Regions from separate parts of the Homo sapiens genome. Here region 1 is linked to region 2. Evidence: fine-mapped expression QTL. Tissue or cell type: whole blood. Region 2 holds a variant in brackets; the other region holds the start of a gene. All regions are shown on one strand. Distances are from middle to middle. Region 1 holds the start of CPPED1 (calcineurin like phosphoesterase domain containing 1). Region 2 has its middle 22 kb from the start of CPPED1.

Evidence for each region. PIP is the estimated chance that this variant, and not a neighbour inherited with it, causes the effect.
Region 1: it holds the start of CPPED1, and the variant in region 2 is fine-mapped to the expression of CPPED1 in whole blood (TOPMed, PIP above 0.99).

Annotation. Positions count from the first base shown.
Region 1 is chr16:12,798,395-12,808,144 of GRCh38, reverse strand. CPPED1 (calcineurin like phosphoesterase domain containing 1) reads left to right here and starts at 4,258. Exons shown (of 4, transcript NM_018340.3): 1 at 4,258-4,438. The coding sequence starts at 4,369. RefSeq lists a silencer at 4,177-4,226 and enhancers at 4,307-4,676, 5,999-6,078.
Region 2 is chr16:12,820,888-12,830,637 of GRCh38, reverse strand. No RefSeq gene overlaps it. Among named protein-coding and RNA genes, the nearest start is that of CPPED1, 22 kb to the right of the region's middle. The variant C/T (reference allele first, on the strand shown) is at 4,841.

The DNA.
Region 1 (9,750 bases), 22 kb after region 2:
GGAGGCAGAGGTTGCAGTGAGCAGAGATCATGCCACTGCACTCCAGCCTGGGCAACACAGCAAGACTCTGTCTCGGGGGAATAAAAAAAAAAAAAGGTTGCATTCTTTCCAGTTTCTGATTAGCTTTTCCAGAGGAGGCAGTCAGAAATGCATTTATCTCAGTGAGCAGAGGGATAACTTTGAGTTCTGTCTGTCCTTTGTCTACAAGGAAATTCCTTCTGAGCGACGTACGTAGCTTTTTTATCTTAGTAGGTTTTTTTTTTTTTTTTTTTGAGACAGTTTCCTTCTGTCACCCAGGCTGGAGCGCAGTGGCACAATCTCAGCTCACTGCAACCTCCGTCTTGTGGTTTGAAGCGATTCTCCTGCCTCAACCTCCCGAGTAGCTGGGATTATAGGCATGCACCACTACAACTGGCTAGTTTTTGTATTTTTAGTACAGATGGATGTCTCACCATGTTGGCCAGGCTGGTCTCAAACTCCTGACCTCAAGTGATCCTCCTGCCTCGGCCTCCCAAAGTGCTGGGATAACAGGTGTAAGCCACTGTACCCAGCCTTAGTAGCTGTCTGTTTCAGCAATAGAGTGGGAGGCAGGTTTGCCCTAAGCAGCTCCCAGCCTGACTTTTCCCCTTGGCTTAGTGATTTTGGGGTCTCAATATTTATTTTCCTTTCACAATTGCAGCTATTGCTATCATCCAATGCACTGGTACAGTTTTGAAGTTGCTCCAGATTGGCCTATAGATCTATTCCCAATTGCTGCTGAGGTTCAAAATATGGTTATCTTGTTGAGATATTCATAATCCATTTATTTATTAATGCAACAAACATTTAGTGTCTATGCCTCAGGCATCCTGCTTGGTGAGCTAGACAGTCAAGGTAACTGCCCTCAGCTGGGCGTGGCGGCTCATGCTTGTAATCCTAACACTTTGGGAGGCTGAGGCAGGAGGATCACTTGAGGCCAGGAGTTCAAGACCAGCCTGGATAACAGTGAGACACCATCTTTATAAATAATAATTTTTTTTTTGAGACAGAGTCTCACTTCGTCACTCAGGCTAGAGTGCAGTGGCACGATCTTGGCCCACTGCAACCTCCGCCTCCCAGGTTCAAGTGATTCTCCTGCCTTAGCCTCCCAAGTAGCTGGGATTACAGGCGTGCTCCCATGCCTACCTAATTTTTATATTTTCAGTACAGATGGGGTTTCACCATGTTGGCCAGACTGGTCTCGATCTCCTGACCTCAAATGATCTGCCTGCCTTGGCCTCCCAAAGTGCTGGGATTACAGGCGTGAGACACTGTGCCCGGCCAAAACAGTAAATTTTTTAAAAAGGTAACCAACTTAATAGACCTTATAGTTGAGTCGGGAAAGTCAACATTAAATAAATAATTACACCTGAAAACATATAATTATCAACTGTGCAAAGTGCAACAAGGGACAAGAACATAGTGCTCTAACAAAGAATGAGGGAGGCCTAGTTTAGATCAGCAAAGTGTGCAAATGGGTAGGGCATGGCCTCTCCACAGAAGTGTTATTTAACTGCAGGCCTTCATGTTCAAATGGGCTTTAGCTCAGCAGGGGAAGATACTTTTTTGTTTGTTTGTTCGTTTTTCAGACAGAGTCTTGCTCTTTCACCAGGCTGGAGTGCAGTGGCGCGATCTCAGCTCACTGCAACCTCCGCCTCCCGGGTTCAAGCAATTCTCCTGCCTCAGCCTCCCGAGTAGCTGGGATTAAAGGCACGCGCCACCACATCTGGCTAATTTTTGTATTTTTAGTAGAGACAGGGTTTTACCATGTTGGCCAGGATGGTCTTGATCTCTTGACCTCGTGATCCACCTGCCTTGGCCTCCCAAAATGCTGGGATTATAGGCATGAGCCACGGTGCCCAGCTGGGAAGAGGCATTTTAAGCAGAAAGAACTGCATATGCAGAGAGGGAAATTAATTTGCATGTTTAATGAACTGAATGGCCAGTATGACTGCAAAGCTAGTGAATAAGAGGCAGGGTCTGTTTCTATAATTCATTCTCTCCTTCACATTTCTTTTAATTAAAAAAAATTTTTTAATAGAGATGAGTTCTCACTATGTTGCTCAGGCTGGTCTTGAACTCCTGGGCTCAAGTAATCCTCCTGCCTAAACCTCCCAAAATGCTGGGATTACAAGCATGAGCCATTGTGCTCAGCTTCCCCTTCACATTTTTTTTTTTTAAAGACACAGTCTCACTCTGTCGCTCAGGCTGGAGTGCAGCGGCGGGATCTCGGCTCACTGCAACCTCTGCCTCTCGGGTTCAAGTGATTCTCCTGCCTTAGCATCCCGAGTAGCTGGGACTACAGGCGTGCACCACCACACCCAGCTAATTTTTGTATTTTTAGTTGAGATGAGGTTTCACCATGTTGGCGAGGGTGGTCCCGATCTGTAGACCTCATGATCCGCCACCTCCACCTCCCAAAGTGCTGGCATTACAGGCCTGAACCATTGCGCCCGGCCTCCTTCACATTTCTTGGGACTCCTCCTCTGGGCCAGGCCATGTTCAGGGAATAGGGTTATAGTGATTGATTAATAATAACAATGGCTAATATTCATTGAGTACCTACCATTTGTTATTAGAACTATTATTCTAAGCACTTTGATACATGAACTCATTTAAGCCTTTCTGCAACCCTATGACCTAGATGCTACTATTGTTTCCATTTCACAGATAGGGAAACTGAGGCATAGAGAAACTATGCAATTTTCAAGAGCATACAACCAGTAAGTGGGTAGAACCGGGATTAATCCAAGCCCACTGACTCCAGGACTCATAGGCATTTATACTCTTAACCACTATGATTCATGGGTGACTCTTGTCAAGGATTAGAGAACAGTAGTTATGGCCATATTAGCTACTCAAACAGTGCTTTGGATGTAGGCAGCTAGTTTAGAAAAGAATTTCCCAAATTTGTAAGATCATAAGAGCTCCCCTGCAGTGCTTGTTAAAAACAGATCATTTTCAGGCCAGGCACTGTGGCTCATGCCTGTAATCCTAGCACTCTAGGAGGCCCGGGTGGGTGGATTGCTTGAGCTCAGGAGTTCCAGATCAGCCTGGGCAACATAGTCAAACTCGTCTCTACTAAAAATACAAAGTATTAGCCAGGCATGGTGGCGCACGCCAATAGTGCCAGCCACTTAGGAGGCTGAGGTGGGAGAATCACCTGAGCCCAGGAGATCGAGACTGCAGAGATTGTGCCACTGCACTCCAGCCTAGGCAACCAGAGTGAGACCCTGTCTCAAAACAACAACAACAACAACAAAACACAGATCATTTTCATAGAGATTTGGATTCAATAGGTCCATTCTGGAATTTGTATTTTCAACACGTTTGACAAATGCTGGCTAAGTAGTTCACTACAATGGCTCTTGAGTTGAAGAGACACTAATTTGGTTACTCGCAGCTTTACTACCTCTCTAGATGTGTGTCACCTTGTGCAAGTTCGTTCATCTCTCTGAGCGTCAGTTTCCCCAAATGACGGATGCAGCTAATAACAGCACCACCTCCTAGGGCTGTAGTGGGGATTAAGTGAGCAGCGTGCAAAGTGCTTAGCGCCCTGCCTGGTGCATAGCAAGCAAAGATAATAACAGAAAGATGGTGGCAGCCACTGGGAAGTTCAGGCTGAGACAGTCTTCCAAGACGTCCACCTTTTCATCTTTTTTTTTTTTTTTTTTGTATTGGCAAGGTCTCTCGCCGTGTTGCCCAGGCTGGTCTCCAACACCTGGACTCAAGCGATCCTCCCTCCTTGGCCTCCCAAAGAGCTGGGGTTACAGGCGTAAGCCACCCCAGTGGCTCCTTCTGACTTTATGATAGAGTTGTCAGATAAAAAAAAATCAGGACGCTTCCATTCAAACCTGCAAAAAGAGAAAAATTTAAAAAAATTAGGACGCCCAGTTCAATTGGAATTTCAGATAATGAAAAAAAAATTTAACGTAAGTAGCTCCCAAATACTGCATAGGACATATTTATACCAAGTCAGTCATTCTTTAAAAAAAAAAATCTGAAATTCCAATTTAACCGGGAGTCCTGCATTTTTACTTGTTAAATCTAGTAACTCTGCCTTTAGGGAAGGACTGACCCCAAAGCCTTATCCCCGCCCACGCGTGCCCTAGACAGTCTCCACTCGCCAGGCGCGCAGGTCGATCCCAGAGGGGCCGCTGGCGCCTCCGCTCCGCCCAGGCAGCACTAGTGGCGCCCCGAGCCACCGGGCCCCTCCCCGTCCCGCCCCAGTCCCGCCCCGAGATCAAAGGGCGTCGCCCAAAGCGGGACAGGTCCAGCGGTTGTTCTGTGTGAAGTCGCGCGGCTTCCACCCACGCAGTGTTCTAAGTGAAGGCCAGAAACTCGCTCGCCATGTCGGCTGCAGAGGCGGGGGGTGTTTTCCACAGAGCCAGGGGCAGGACCCTGGCCGCGTTTCCCGCAGGTACTGCCCGCCCCTCACCCGGGGAGGGGACTCTGGGGCTGCGGAACCTTCCGCCGGGGGAACCTTTTGTTCAGGTGTGCGCTCCGCCAGTCGGACACCATCCGGGGCTGCACCGGGGCCTGGGAGCCGCCATAGCTGCATCAAAGCCTGCTCTTAGGGATTCCAGGGGCGCAGTTGAGAGGCGAGGCCGAGAGAGCGATCTGGTCTAGGAGCCTCCTTGGCCTTGACCTAACTTCCCCCAGAGAAGGGAAGTAAGAGGAGGGTAGCAAAGCATAGTTAATGACAGCTTGGACTCTGCAGCGAGACCTGGTTTCCAAGCTGTGCATTAGCATCTTGGCCTCAGCTTCCACATCTGTGAAACGGGAATACTTGTGGGTGTTACTGGATAAGCGTTCGGTGCATGTTAGAGGGTGTCGGTTTTATTAAGGTTGTTCACCGTTATGTATTCTGTACTCCATAATGACGTTTATTTAAGTCATTCACCGAAATGGTAACACTGCCCCATCAGAGCAGTAGAGAGGGAGGGCATTCGAGAGTCGTAGTGAAGTGCTTGGATTTTGGATTTAGATTATCTGCTTTGCCTTAAAAATGGGTTTGATAATACCTGCCTCATAGGGTTGTTGGAAGCGTAAACAGATCAAAAGTATTTTTGTAACCCGGTGTTGGACGCATGCTAGGTGCTAAGTAAAGAGGGAGGTTTGTTTCTGGTTTGTTGATTCCCCTCTGTGGCTTTTTGCTGCCTGCAGCCAGATCGCCTCCCAGGCTCTCACCAGCTTTATACCCCCAGGGAAGTCACCCTAAATGCCCTATATGATCAGGCTTGTGTCCACTTCCTTCAGGGTTGTCATTCTCTCTCTTGCCCAGTTCTGCAACAGGTTTTGTTGTTGCCCTTGTTTGAACTGCATTTAAAAGGGCCAAGGCCGTTCTTTCCCTGAGGGTCTTGGCGCTTGCTGTTTTCTGCTTCTTTAGCAGGGTTGGTGAGCCTGGCTCTCTCAACCGTCACACCTCATTTTAAAGTTCATTCACTTCCTCAGAGACTTTACCTGCTACCTTATCTAAAGTAGGTTTCTCCGGTAATTCTATGGTAAAACCTTATTTATTCATTTAAGGCGGAGTCTTGCTTTATTGCCCAGGCTGGAGTGCAGTGGCACGATCTTGGCTCACTGTAACCTCCGCCTCCCGGGTTCAAGCGATTCTCCTGCCTCAGCCTCTGGAGTAGCTGGAACTATAGGCACGCACCACCACGCCCGGCTAATTTTGTATTTTTAGTAGAGATGGGGTTTCTCCATGTTGGCCAGGCTGGTCTCGAACTCACAACATCAGGTGATCCGCCGTCCTCAGCCTCCTAAAGTGCTGGGATTACAGACCTGAGCCACCGCGCCCGGCCTGGGACGACTGTATTTTAATGGACCTTGTCTTTTTTGTCCAACATGAAGATTTTGCTCTTTTCTTGCTGGGCAACATTCCATTGGATGATTATATACCTTATACATTCTGTTGATGTATATGCTGAATATCTTCCCTTTGCCTCTCCAAACCTTTCTCCCTTCCCCACCATGCCCCAGGGGTTTGCCCTCCGTGAGCTACATCGGTGGGCTCCTTGCCTTTTGGTTTTCCTTTGGGCTCAGCCAGTGGGGAGCCCTGAGAAGAAATCAGAGCAGGGAGAGAAGCAAAAGGCAGCTGTATTTATTCTTGCAGTTTACTCTGTGGGGTTGCCTCGCCTGGCTGTCTTCCTCCCCACCCCTGAAGGTCAAGGTCGCTCCTTTTCTCAGGACAGCTTTTCTCCTCATTCTCTCTAGTTCTGGATTTGAGTAACCATTTCCTCCTTTGAGGCGTGGGAGTGGCAGTGGTTCTGCTTTTCTAACCTTGGGTTACCACACTCCCTTGTAGGTTTCGTCCACCCAACCCCCACCAAGTAATCCCTTTTTAAACCCTTTTTAAAATCATCCTAATTTGAGAATGCCAACTATTTCCTGCAAGGATCCTGACTAATACAATGGCCATTTAGTTGTTTCTGGTTTTTGCCCTTGGTAACAGTGCTGTTATGAACATTCTGTACAAATCTCTTTGTGGACACATGGGAGAGTTACTCTGAGGCATATACCTACAAGCTATGTTCTGGGTTATAGGGTATAATCATCCCCAGCATTACTAGATGTGGTCAAACTGCCTTCCAAAGTGGTAGTGCCAATTTATACTCCCACCAGCAGTATATGAGAGTTCCCTGTTACTCTGCTGTATTATTTTTTTTTTCAGTTCAAGAAATATTTGTTGTGGGCTGGCTGCGGTGGCTCACGCCTATATATTTGTTGAGGGCCGGCCGCGGTGGCTCACGCCTGTAATCCCAGCACTTTGGGAGACTGAGGCGGGTGGATCACCTGAGGTCAGGAGTTCGAGACCAGCATGGTCAACATGGTGAAACTCCATCTGTACTAAAAATACAAAATTAGCTGGGTGTGGTGGCACATGCCTGTAGTCCTAGCTACTTGGGAGGCTATGGCAGGAGAATTGCCTGAGCCTGGGAAGCAGAAGTTGCAGTGAGCCGAGAATGTGCCACTGCACTCCACCCTGGACAACAGAGCAAGACTCCAGCTCAAAACAAACAAACAAAAAAACCGAAAGGAAATAAATATTTCTTATATTCCTATTGCACTGTCCAGTATGGTGGAGAATAGGAAGTTGGGGGCGGGGGAGTGGTTCAAGTTACATGCTCTCAGAGGCTTGTAATAATCCAGGTACAAAGCTAGGGCACAAAAAATAATGCTTGGCTACTGGTGGGCTCTGAGGTCATTCACGCAGGGTTTCCCTGAGGAAGTGTTGCTTCGTCTGATTGCTAAAAGAGGAGTATGAGTTAACTGGGCCACGAAGGGAGGGAAGACCATGTGGACCATGGGCAGAGCAAGTGTGAGAGTCCTAGGACATGGCAGGATGGGAAAGGGAAGGATGAGGGCTGAAGGAAGTCTCTGAGTCTGGAGCAGAAAGATGAGGTTGGGACATGGTGTGGGCTGAGGCTGGAGAGGGAGGTGGTGGTAACTAAGGATTTTTGTCGTGTCCTAATAGCATCAAGAGGTTTCAAGCTGGATGTGTGAGGAAGCAAGGATGTATGATCAGATTTTTATTTTGAAAAGAGTGGTCTGATTGCAGCAATGGCAACAAAAGCATTTCTACTTTAGAGCAACTTGGGATGCAATCCAGTTGGAAGCTGGAGCTCAAGGATTTGTCCAGAGGCTGCATTTCTGTAGTCCCCCATGGTTTACTTTTTTTTTTTTTTTTTTGAGACAGAGTCTAGCTCTGTCACCCAGACTGCAGTGCAGTGATGCTACTCACTGCAACCTCCACCTCCCACGTTCAAACGATTCTCCTGCTTCAGCCTCCCGAGTAGCTGGGATTACAGGCATGTACCACCATGCCCGCTAATTTTTGTGTTTTTAGTAGAGACAGGGTTTCGCCATGTTGGCCAGGCTGGTCTGGGACTCCTGACCTCAGGCACCTCGGCCTCCCAAAGTGCTGGGATTTACAGGCATGAGCCACCGCACTTGGCCCCCATTGTTTACTTTGAATGTGTTTATTTGCTGTAGCTGGAGGTGCCTATTGGGCACGGGGTGTCTTTCAGTGGAGATGGTGGGAGTGCTGAGGTATAGTAGCTTCCTAGGCCATTGCAGCTGCCAGGGGGCCACCACTGGGACCAGAGGATCAGAGAGCAGCTCCCCTGGATAAGAATGGGGATGCTGGAGAGAGACTTGATGATAAATCTATAAGATACCTACCCTGCTGATAGGAGGAGAGAGTGACTCTGAACTTTTCTTAGCCCCGAGTAAATCTAGAAGTGGGGCCAGCACTTGATCTCCTCTGTGAGCCATGCAGTCCCATAGACACACCCAGGATGGGTCATTTAACGGAGGGCCTAGAGAGGCCCAGCCTCAGAGTGTTCTGCTGAGAACCCCAGGTTTGTGGGTTCACATTACTAGGTGCTGAACCCTAGCCTACCATTGCTGCTTCCATTGCACTCATTGACAATTCCCCGGGGTCCTGACTCTATTAGCATCGCTGGCAACTTGGAGAGGTGCCCTTAGAGGCATCAGAGGCCTCTCCAGACTCCTTGGGAAGCCAGTAGATTTGCCCCTTGGGCAGACTGAGAAAGTTAAAGAACTAGCTTTTCGAGGCTGGGAGCAGTGGCTTACGCCTGTAATTCCTGCACTTTGGGAGGCCGAGGCAGGTGGATTGCTTGAGGCCAGGAGTTTAAGACCAGTCTGGCCAACATGGCGAAACCCCATCTCTACTAAAATTAAAAAAATTAGCCGGGTGTGGTGGCAGGCACCTGTAATCCCAGCTACTTGGGAGGCTGAGGCAGGAGAATCACTTGAACCTGAGAGGCGGAGGTTGCAGTAAGCCAAGATTGCCCGCTGCACTCTAGCCTAGGAGACAGAGTGATGACTGTGTCTCAAAAAAAAAAAAAAAAAAAACTGACTTTTCCCCTTCTCTTGCCAAAACACACACCATCAAAGGGGTTTGATTAACTCAAGCAACAGTCCCTAAAAATCACAGCTCTGAACCCTTCACCTTTGCTGCAGAATCAGCTCATTGAGCAGTTTGTTTTCCAAGTGTAGCCTGCCAATTAAATGAAAGAGCGCTTTGCTTTAAGACCCATTTCCTCCCACCGGTGATTTACGTGAGTAACAGTATTCCCATCAACTCCTTCCAGTAGTGGTATGTGTGACACTTGGTTTCAGTCATCCGTTCCCTGTTAACATAATGTGCTAGGCTCTGTTGACGGATGTTGATTAAAAAAAATTGTACATGTCTCACCTGAGAAAGCTCACATTCCTAAGGCATGTTCAGATATTCATTTTAATTAGGCAAATTGATAATTAGGTTTTCTTGACACATATCCTAATTAGGACTACTTTCTTCTAGTAATTGTCTTTTGAGAAGTTTATGGCTTCTGTTTTGAAGAAATCCTAAAAGGGAGAGAGATCAAGATAAAATATGCTTTTAAAGTGACTTAATTATTTTTAGGTCTGAATCTGTTTTTCCAGTTTGATATTTTCCCTTCAGAGAACTGGACTAATGGGTGGTATTCTTAAAAAGATTATTTTCCCAGACATTTCATTCCTAAGAAGCTGATGGAATTTGCTAATCCTGAATCTTTCCTTGTACTCTCTGGAAAACTTCTCCCTTGGCAGAGAATAGTGTCAGTAAAAAAATAACTCACTCTGTCTCTTGCAGGTCTCACCTAAGAACTTTTCTAGAAATAGTAGACCTGGAAAGGTATCTCCAAGTTTGAACAAAGTTGAAAATATTGTGGTTTTAAA
Region 2 (9,750 bases):
AAAATTAGCTGGGCATGGTGGTACATGTCTGTAATCCTAGCTACTCAGGAGGCTGAGGCAGGAGAATCACTTGAACCCGGGAGGCGGAGGTTGCAGTGAGCTGAGAGCACACCAATGCACTTCAGCCTGGGCGACAGAGCAAGACTCTATCTGAAGAAAGAAAAAAAGGCTTAATATGTCAACTTTACTCTTAAAACATGAGTAGACTAATTTGTCAATAATCATACCTTTTCAGGAAAATGTATCATTAATAATTGGATATTTCAGCCGGGCGCAGTGGCTCACGCCTGTAATCCCAGCACTTTGGGAGGCTGAGGTGGGCAGATCACCTGAGGTTAGGAGTTCGAGACCAGCCTGGCCAACATGGCAAAACCCCATCTCTACTAAAAATACAAAAATTAGCTAGGCGTGGTCATGGGTGCCTATAATCCCAGCTACTTGGGAGGCTGAAGCAGGAGAATCACTTGAACCCAGGAGGTAGAGTCTTCAGATAGCCGAGAATGCACCACTGCACTCCAGCCTGGGCAACAGACTGAGACTCTGTCTCAAAAAAAAAAAAAAAGAAAAAAGAAAAAAAAATGGAAACTCAAAATGACAAAACATAATAATATTATAGCTAGCATTTCCTGTGCACTAGCTCTGCGTGAAATGCCCATTCCAAAGGATTTCTCCACCTTGGAACCATTGGTATTTGGGGCCAGATAATGCTGAGTTGTAGGGGCTGCCATGGGCATTATAGGATGTTCAGCAGCGTCCCTGTCCTCTACCCCCTAGATGCCAGTAGCACCACCACCACCTCCCCTCAGTATGACGGCCAGGATGTCTTCAAACACTGCCAACTATTTCTGGGTGACATTTGAGAACCACTTCCATACAATTTTTCACAGCATCGTTCACGGCAAGGGCGATATTGTGATACCCATTTTACAGATAGGGAAACTGAGTCTCAGAGAGATATCTTACTGCTAGTCACAGAGCTAATAAGTGAAAGAATCAGAACTCAAATCCAACTTTTCATAACTCCATGTGATATTATAATTATGGTAACTACCAAGGAGTAAGCATTTATCCATACCTTCAGGCACTGTGCTAAGTAAGTGCTTTATGTGTATACCCTCATAGAATCCTCACATCAACTGTATGACATGGATACACTCATATTTATTTCACTAAATAGATCCTTGTTTGCAAATGGCCTTGATGAAAACTCATTATTCCTGCTCTTTTTGTAAGAGCAAACTGAGGCTCAGTAAGGTTATAGAACTTGGCCAAGGTCGTACAGCTGAAAAGCTGTAAGCCTGAATTGGAATATAGCTCTGTCTGACTCCACAGCCTATGGTCTTCGCCAACACAAATACCCACAAAGCCTGAGGTCTCATTATCCTGCACTCTTTGCCAATGGAGGATGGGAGAAAATGAGAAACTCTGATTTACTCATACAATTACAAGTAAGGGGCCAGGCGTGGCGGTGGCTCACACTTGTAATCCTGGCACTTAGGGAGACCGAGGCAGGTGGATCACCTGAGGTCAGGAGTTCGACCTCCTGGCCAACATGGTGAAACCCCATCTCTACTAATAATAAAAAATTAGCCAGGTCTCGTAGTGCATGCCTGTAATCCCAGCTACTTGGGAGGCTGAGGCAGGAGAATCGCTGTAACCTGGGAGGCAGAGGTTGCAGTGAGCTGAGATCATGCCACTGCACTCCAGCCTGGGCAACAGAGCAAGAATCCATCTCAAAAAAAAAAACAAAAAACACAGGTAAGTTCTGCTCTAATTGAGCTCAGTAGTCACTCATTCATTCATTCATCACTCATTGCCTATGCAGTATTGCATAGTCCAAAGAGCATGCTCTCCAATCCTGCTCTACTAATTACTTGCTGTGTGGCCTTGGGCAAATTACTTAAGTTCTCTGAGCCACAAGCTTCATTTTCCTTATCTATAAAATCAGATAATTACCTAGGTTTTAGGATTATTATGAAAACAGCATGAAATAATGCATGGAAAGTGTGTAGCCTAGAATGACTACACAGTAAGTGATCATTAACAATTTTTAATAAATTTTGTTGTTGTTACTTTGCAGAAGGAATTGAGCTGGTACATTCTGAATGCATGCAAAGTAGAATAATATGAAAATAGCCAAAGAAAAATCATCATGCCAGGGAAATACAATTGAAATGCCAAAGCAATCTCTAAGCAGTATGACAGGACAGCATTTAACTGCTGTCCCATATGTTAGCTTTTGGGGAAAAAAAAATTGCACATGAACTCATGTTTGTCATTAAAATTTTTTTAAAAAAAGCTTTTGACTTTATGTTGGCAAATGCCAGGAAATATACTTACAACACAAGTTACACTTTAAAAAAATGAAAATACATCTACAATTTTCTAGATTTCTTGTCATCATTTTTGCCTGTTTCTACTTTGAGGATTTGGGGGCGATAAAGAAAACAACTTCTGTTGCTAGGAACATTTCAATAAATGAAGATATATTGCTGCCCACAAAGATGCCCCATGAACCAGTCCTCCTGCTCTCCCACAAACCAAATTATACACAGATGTATGGCTGAGTCTGAAGATGTTTGTTAAGACTAGTCATTTTAATTCTGAACTTAGTTACAGATTCAAGACATAAAAGGGGAGGGAAAAAAGGTTGAGGGAATAATCTAAATTCTTTCTCCCAGGGAAGTTTTGTTTATCTTCTTTGAATCTAATCATCTGCCCGATTTGTATATTTCTTTATGCAAATTGGTCAGATGTTCTAAAAATCATATAGGAAGGCTAGGTCTAATAGCTCAGGGTCAAGATTTAGCATTGGAAGTCTTAAGGTCATTAGTCTTCCTTTCTAAAGTTACCTCTTAAGAAAATTCATAAAACTAGTGAATTCATTCACTTTGGATGGATCTTTCAGTTCTCACTTGAGAGAACAGATTTAAAAGGGTAACCCATTGAGATAAACACTGCAGTCCATGTTGGAATAACCAGATTAATATTTCTAAAAAGTAATCAGATTAATTTCTGTGGAAGGCAGTGGAGCTTAATGGTTAACTGTTGGGAGCTTCAGACTTGGATGAAACTGGCTTCACATCCCAGCTTTGCTCTTCAATTGCTGTGGCAGGTAGACTCGATATGGCCCCAGTGATTCCCACCTCCTGGTCTTTGTGCACTTGTGTAATCCTCTCCCCTAAGTGTGTATTGCCCTGGTGGCTTGATTCTAACCAACAGAATATGGTCAAAGTAATTGGATGCTACTTCTGTGATGAAACTACACAAGATGTGAGTTTTGTCTTGCTAGAAGTTTCTGTCCCTTGCTGCTTTGATGAAGCAAGTTTCCATGTTGTGAGCCACCATGTTAGAAAGTGCCATGTGCCAAGGAACTGAAGGTGGCCTCCAGCCAACAGGAAACTGAAGCCCTTGGGCCAAGAAACCTGAAGGAACTGAATCCTTCCAACAGCCATGTAAGTGAAGTTGCAAAGCAGACCTTTCCCCAGCTGAGTCTTCAGAGGTGACCCCCACCCTGACTGACTCCTCAGTTATAGCCTCTTGAGAACCCATAAGCAGAGTATTTAGCTAAGCTTTGCCCAAACTCCTGGCTCCCAGCAACTGTCAAATAATAAATATTTGTCATTTAAGGCTGCTAAGTTTGTGGTAATTTGTTAAGTAGTGTATTAGTCTGTGCTCATGCTGCTGATAAAGACATAGCAGAGACTGGATAATTTATAAAGGAAAGAGGTTGAAGGGACGTGTTGGACTCACAGTTCCAACATGGCTAGGGAGGCCTCACAATCATGGCAGAAGGCAAAGGAGGAGCAAAGTCACGTCTTACCTGGCAGCAGGCAAGAGAACATGTGCAGGGGAACTCCCTTTATAAAACCATCAGATATTGTGAAACTCACTACCACAAGAACAGTATGGGGGAACCACCCCTATGATTCAATTATCTCCACCTGGCCCTGCTCTTGACACGTGGGGATTATTACAATTCAAGTGAGATTTGGGTACAGACACAGCCAAACCATGTCAAGTAGCAATAGATCATCAATACAGTAGCTATGCCACCTTGGATGAGAGAATTAACCTCTCTGAGCCCAAGTTTTTTCTATGTAAAATGTGGATGCCAATACTTACTTCTCAGCGTGGCTGTAAAGATTCAATAAAACAAATGCTTAACATTGGAGCTGGCACCTTGTCAGCTTACTTTAAATTTACTTTTATTTTATTGATAATATTCTGTACTCATGATGCACACCAAACTCAGGAAATAATTAATGTGATATACAGGAATTTTAAATATATAAATCAGTTTTTTTAGAAATCACATACCAGGAAATTCAATGTTACAGTTGTCACAAAAGGAGGCACAGTTTCAGTTTTGTAAACAAAAAATAAAATTCTAAGGCCCATGTGAATGGACCCCCTCCTCTTAGCCAAGGACATTCCAAAGTTAACCTAACTAGTTCAGACCATGGTTGGGGGAGAGTCGGACATGCCTCCTTATACTCTCCCTGCTTTTGAAATTCAGGAAAAGCCAACCAGCATTAACATCAACACAGACCTTAAAGTTGATAAGAAACATTTACAGGCCAGGCACGGTGGCTCATGCCTGTAATCCCAACATTTTGGGAGGCCAGGGCAGGCAGATCACTTGAGGCCAGGAGGAGTTCAAGACCAGCCTGGGCAACATGGTGAAAACCCATCTCTACTAAAAATAGAAAAATTAGCTGGCCATGGTAGTGGATGCCTGTAATCCCAGCTACTCAGGAGTCTGAGGCAGAAAATCGCTTGATCCCAGGAGGCAGAGGTTGCAGTGAGCCAAGATCACATCACTGCACTCCAGCCTGGG[C/T]GACAGACAGAGCAAGACTCTGTCTCAAAAAAAAAAAAAAAAGAAAAGAAAAGAAAAAAAAAAAACCATTTACAATCTATTATCTCCAAAGCCTGCTACCTGGAGGCTTCTTCTGCATGATAATACTTTGGTCTCTACAACCCATTATCATAGCCGAGATATTCCTTTATATTGATTCCAGGTCTTTAGATAATAACTTAACTCTTTTAGTCAATTGCCCATCAGAAAATCTTTTTTTTTTTTTCATAATTTCATTTTCTTTTTTTCTTTCTTTTTCTTTTTTTTTTTTTTTGAGATGGAGTCTCACACTATTGCCTGGGCTGGAGTGCAATGGTGTGATCTCAGCTCACTACAACCTCCGCCTCCCGGGTTCAAGCGATTCGCCTGCCTCAGCCTCCCGAGTAGCTGGGATTACAGGTACCCGCCACCATGCCAGGCTAATTTTTTGTATTTTTAGTAGACACGGGGTTTCACCATGTTGACAAGCTGGTCTTGAACTCCTGACTTCGTGATCCATCCGCCTCAGCCTCCCAAAGTGCTGGGATTATAGGAGCCACCACGCCCAGCCCAGACAATCTTTAAATCAACCTATAACCTGGAAGCCCCCGTCTCGAGTTGTCCTGCCTTTCCAGCTCGAACCAATGTACATCTCACATGTATTGATTGACTGATGTCTAGTTAAAAGGTATAGAAGCGAGCTGTATCCTAACCACCTTGGGCACATGTCATCAGGAAATTCTAAGGCTGTGTCACAGGCATGTCTTTAACCTTGACAAAATAAACTTTCTAAATTGATTGAGACCTGTCTGGCACATCTGTTTGGGCTCACAGTTTCTACTGCCTGATTCTTGTGCAATGCAAGTTGAGGGGGGCACCTGAGTATCTGCATGCCAGAGGAAAGATCACCCCAAAGAGAGGCAACGGGAAACAAAGATCCACAGAAAGAGGAGTGCATACATACTTCATAAGAGTAAACCAGTTTAGGGCTGGGCACAGTGGCTCAAGCCTGTAATCCCAGCACTTTGGGAGGCCAAGGCAGGCGGATCATCTGAGGCCAGGAGTTCGAGACCAGCCTGGCCAACATGGTGAAACCCTGTCTCTACTAAAAATACAAATTTAGCTGGGTATGGTGACTCACGCCTGTAGTCCCTGCTACTTGGGAGGCTGAGGCAGGAGAATTGCTTGAACCTGGGAGGTAGAGGTTGCAGTGAGCCAACATTGCACCACTGCACTCCAGCCTGGGTGACAGAGTAAGACTCCATCTTAAAAAAAAAAAAAAAAAAAAAAGAGTAAACTGGTTTACCCATAACTTATAGTTTAGTTTGCCAAGTGTGAGGGATATTGGGGAGCCCCTTACACTATTGATGGGAAAGAGAACATGGTGACAAAACCCATCAACAATTTATGTGTATGTGCTATTTAGCCCAATAATCCCATTTCTAGGAACTTATCCTAAAGAAATTCTCCAAAAAAGAGCACCAATATATTTAAGCTGTTTATTGCAATAGTCCTCATAGATAGTAGGTTGAACCATATGAAATGACTGGTATTTGGCCATTTTTGACCAATGAACACAGCAATTTCATAGAGTTCTACCTAAAAGAACAGCATTTGAAACAACTTCAGAATCCACGTGCAACTGTAAAACTGTGGACTATTTTATACATACACATATATGGCATATCAACATTTACATACACACACATATATATTGGTATATATGACATCAGCGTATTAAGTAAAGAAAACAGCTGACAAAATAACATTCCTAGGCCATGCAAAACAATGACTTTGGGAGGTCAAGGCCAGTGGATCACTTGAGTCACAGGAGGTGGATCACTTGAGTCCAGTAGTTCAAGACCAGCCTGGGTAACATGGTGAAACCCTGTACCCCGTCTCTTAAAAAAAAAAAAAAAATTAGCCAGGCATTGTGATGCATACCTGTAGTCCCAGCTACTCAGGAGGCTGAAATGGGAGGAACACTTGAGCCTGGGAGGTGAAGATTGCAGTGAGCCATAATCACACCATTGCACTCCAGCCTGCGTGACAGAGCAAGAACTTGTGTCAAAAAAAAAAAAATTTAGCGAGGCATGGTGGTGTGTGCCTGTAGTCCCAACTACTCAGGAGACTGAGGTGAGAGGATCACTCGGGCCTGGGACATCAAAGCTGCAGGGAGCCGTGACTGCGCCACTGCACTCCAGCCTGGGTGACAGAACAAAACCATGTCAACAACAACAAAAAAGAAAATAAAAGAAACTCATTTGTCCTTTATTGCTTTAGTATTTCATGAAGACCATAATTTTATCAGGCAATAAAACTTCCGTGGAGGTTTAAAGAAGTTCCTTCAATTTCACACATTACCCTTTGCATTAACTGTAACGTCAGAACACTCAGATGGCCAAGAAAACATGAACAGTCCACCAGCAAAAAAGGGTTGGATAAGGAGAAAAAAAAAATTGGAAAGAATTCGATATACAATATTTCAAAAATATAAGCATCTAAGTGCCAATGATAGAAAAACATCAGAATTTTATTGGGCTTTCTCATCCTGATTTTGGTATTATTTCCATTACGAAGAAAGGGGCACTACGATTGCAGTTCTTGGGACTCTAAAAGCCTTGAGCCAGTGTTAGCTTCATGTAATTTTTAACATGGACTTGACCCAGGACATACTGTTTCCAAAGAACAGCTTCTTCTCATAAGGCAGGGACAAAACAGGAAAGCAAATCTCCTTGCTCTCTTGTTTTTGAATGTCTTTTGCTCTAATAATCTGTGTCAAGAACTGCATGGCTGAATGTCATACTGTGTTGTGCTTGCGGCTGTTGTGCACATTGTGATAGAGATGTTTACAACTGGATGGTGGGTTGTCACAGCACAGCACTGGGGACAGTGGCCAGCACTGCTCAGGAACACAGCTGAGGGCCGGGCGCAGTGGCTCTTGCCTGTAATCTCAACACTTTGGGAGGCCAAGGCAGGTGGATCACCTGAGGTCAGGAGTTTGACATCAGCCTGGCCAACATGGTGAAACCCTGTCTCTTCTAAAAATACAAAAATTAGCCAGACGTGGTGGTGAGTGCCTGTAATCCCAGCTAATCGGGAGGCGGGTCTTTCCCATGCTGTTCTCATGATAGTGAATAAGTTTCACCAGATCTGATGGTTTTAAAAATGGGAGTTTCCCTGCACAAGCTACCTCATTCTTCTCTTGTCTGCCGCCATGTGAGACATGGCTTTCACCTTCTGCAATAATTGCAAGGCCTCCCCAGCCATGTGGAACTGTAAAAACATTAAACCTCTTTCTTTTGTAAATTGCCCAGTTTCAGGTATGTCTTTATCAGCAGCATGAAAATGGACTAATACAGCCTCCTTGAGACTTCTCTTGTTTCCATTACCTAGCACGATTCCATCTAAACTCTTCTTTTCTGTGTCCTTTCATCCTTCTCATGTTCTTAACCTTAACCATCCTTAGCCATAGGTGAATATTCTCTGTCCTCAGTTCTCTGTTCTTCTTTTTTTTTCTTTTTTTTTTTTTTTTTACACTTACACCCATGATGTAGCTCAAGGGTTATATGGTTTGGCTCTGTGTCCTCACCCAAATCTCCCATCGAATTGTGATTTCCAGTGTTGGAGGAGGGACCTTGTGGGAGGTGATTGGATCATGGGGGCGGATTTCTCACTTGCTATTCTTGTGATAGTGAGTTCTCATGAGATCTGTTTATTCAAAAGTGTGTAGCACTTTCCCCTTCACCCTCTCGCTCTTCTGCTCTGCCACGGGAAGACGTGCCGGCTTCCCCTTTGCCTTCCGCCATGACTGTAAGTTCCCTGAGGCCTCCCCAACCATTCCTCCTGCACAGGCTGCAGAACTATGAGTCAATTAAACCACTTTTCTTCATAAAATTATCCAATCTCAGGTAGCTCTTTATAGTAGTGTGAAAATGGACTCATACAAAGATCTTACTATCATCTCTACTCATGTAATTTCCAAATCTGCACCACTAGCTCTGATTTCTCACTGGACTTGTATTTCCAGTGGATATAGAGGTGAACTATAGACACACTGAGCTGAAAGGAACTTTAGAGAGTGTTTAATCCAGAGACCTCAAACTGAATGGCTCAGGGGGCCAGGAAGGTAACATAAATATAAAGCAGGCTGGGTGTAGGTGGCAAATGGCAACTGATACTGGACCTCACCATCAGGAATACAATAGGGCATGGTGGGGGCTGTGGAAAAACAGGGGACCACATGTCCTATCTACAGGGATCAGCTTCTGCCAGTTTCTGGAGGCACAAGTCTGAGCTTTTGTGTATCATCTCCCAATTGTCAAATGTTGCTAGAAAATTAAAATGTAAAACCCTGTGTAGAATAAACAAACCATATCTGCTACCCATTTGCTCTTCTGATCTAACGCAGTGCCTCCATTATTTATTTATTTTTATTTTTTGAGATAGAGTCTCACTCTGTCACCCAGGCTGGAGTGCAGTGGTGCAATCTCAGCTCACTGCAACCTCCACCTCCCAGGTTTAAGCGATTCTCATGCCTCAGTCTCCCGAATAGCTGGGACTAATGGCATGCGCCACCACACCCAGCTAATTTTTGTATTTTTAGTAGAAACGGGCTTTCACTATGTTGGGCAGTTTGGTCTCAAACTACTGACCTCAAGTGATCCACCCACCTTGACCTCCCAATGTGCTGGGATTACCAGTGTGAGCCATCATGCCCAGCCAGTGCCCTCTTTTTTTAAAGATCAAGTGGCTTGGGCTCAGAAGGGTTATGTGATGGGTTCATTGTTCACATTTGGCAGAGCCATAACCAGAATTCGGCTTTTCTCACTTCAAAATCCCTCAAAATCTGCTTGTTCAAAAATTAAATCATGGGCCAGATGCAGTGGCTCATGCCTGTGATCCCAGCACTT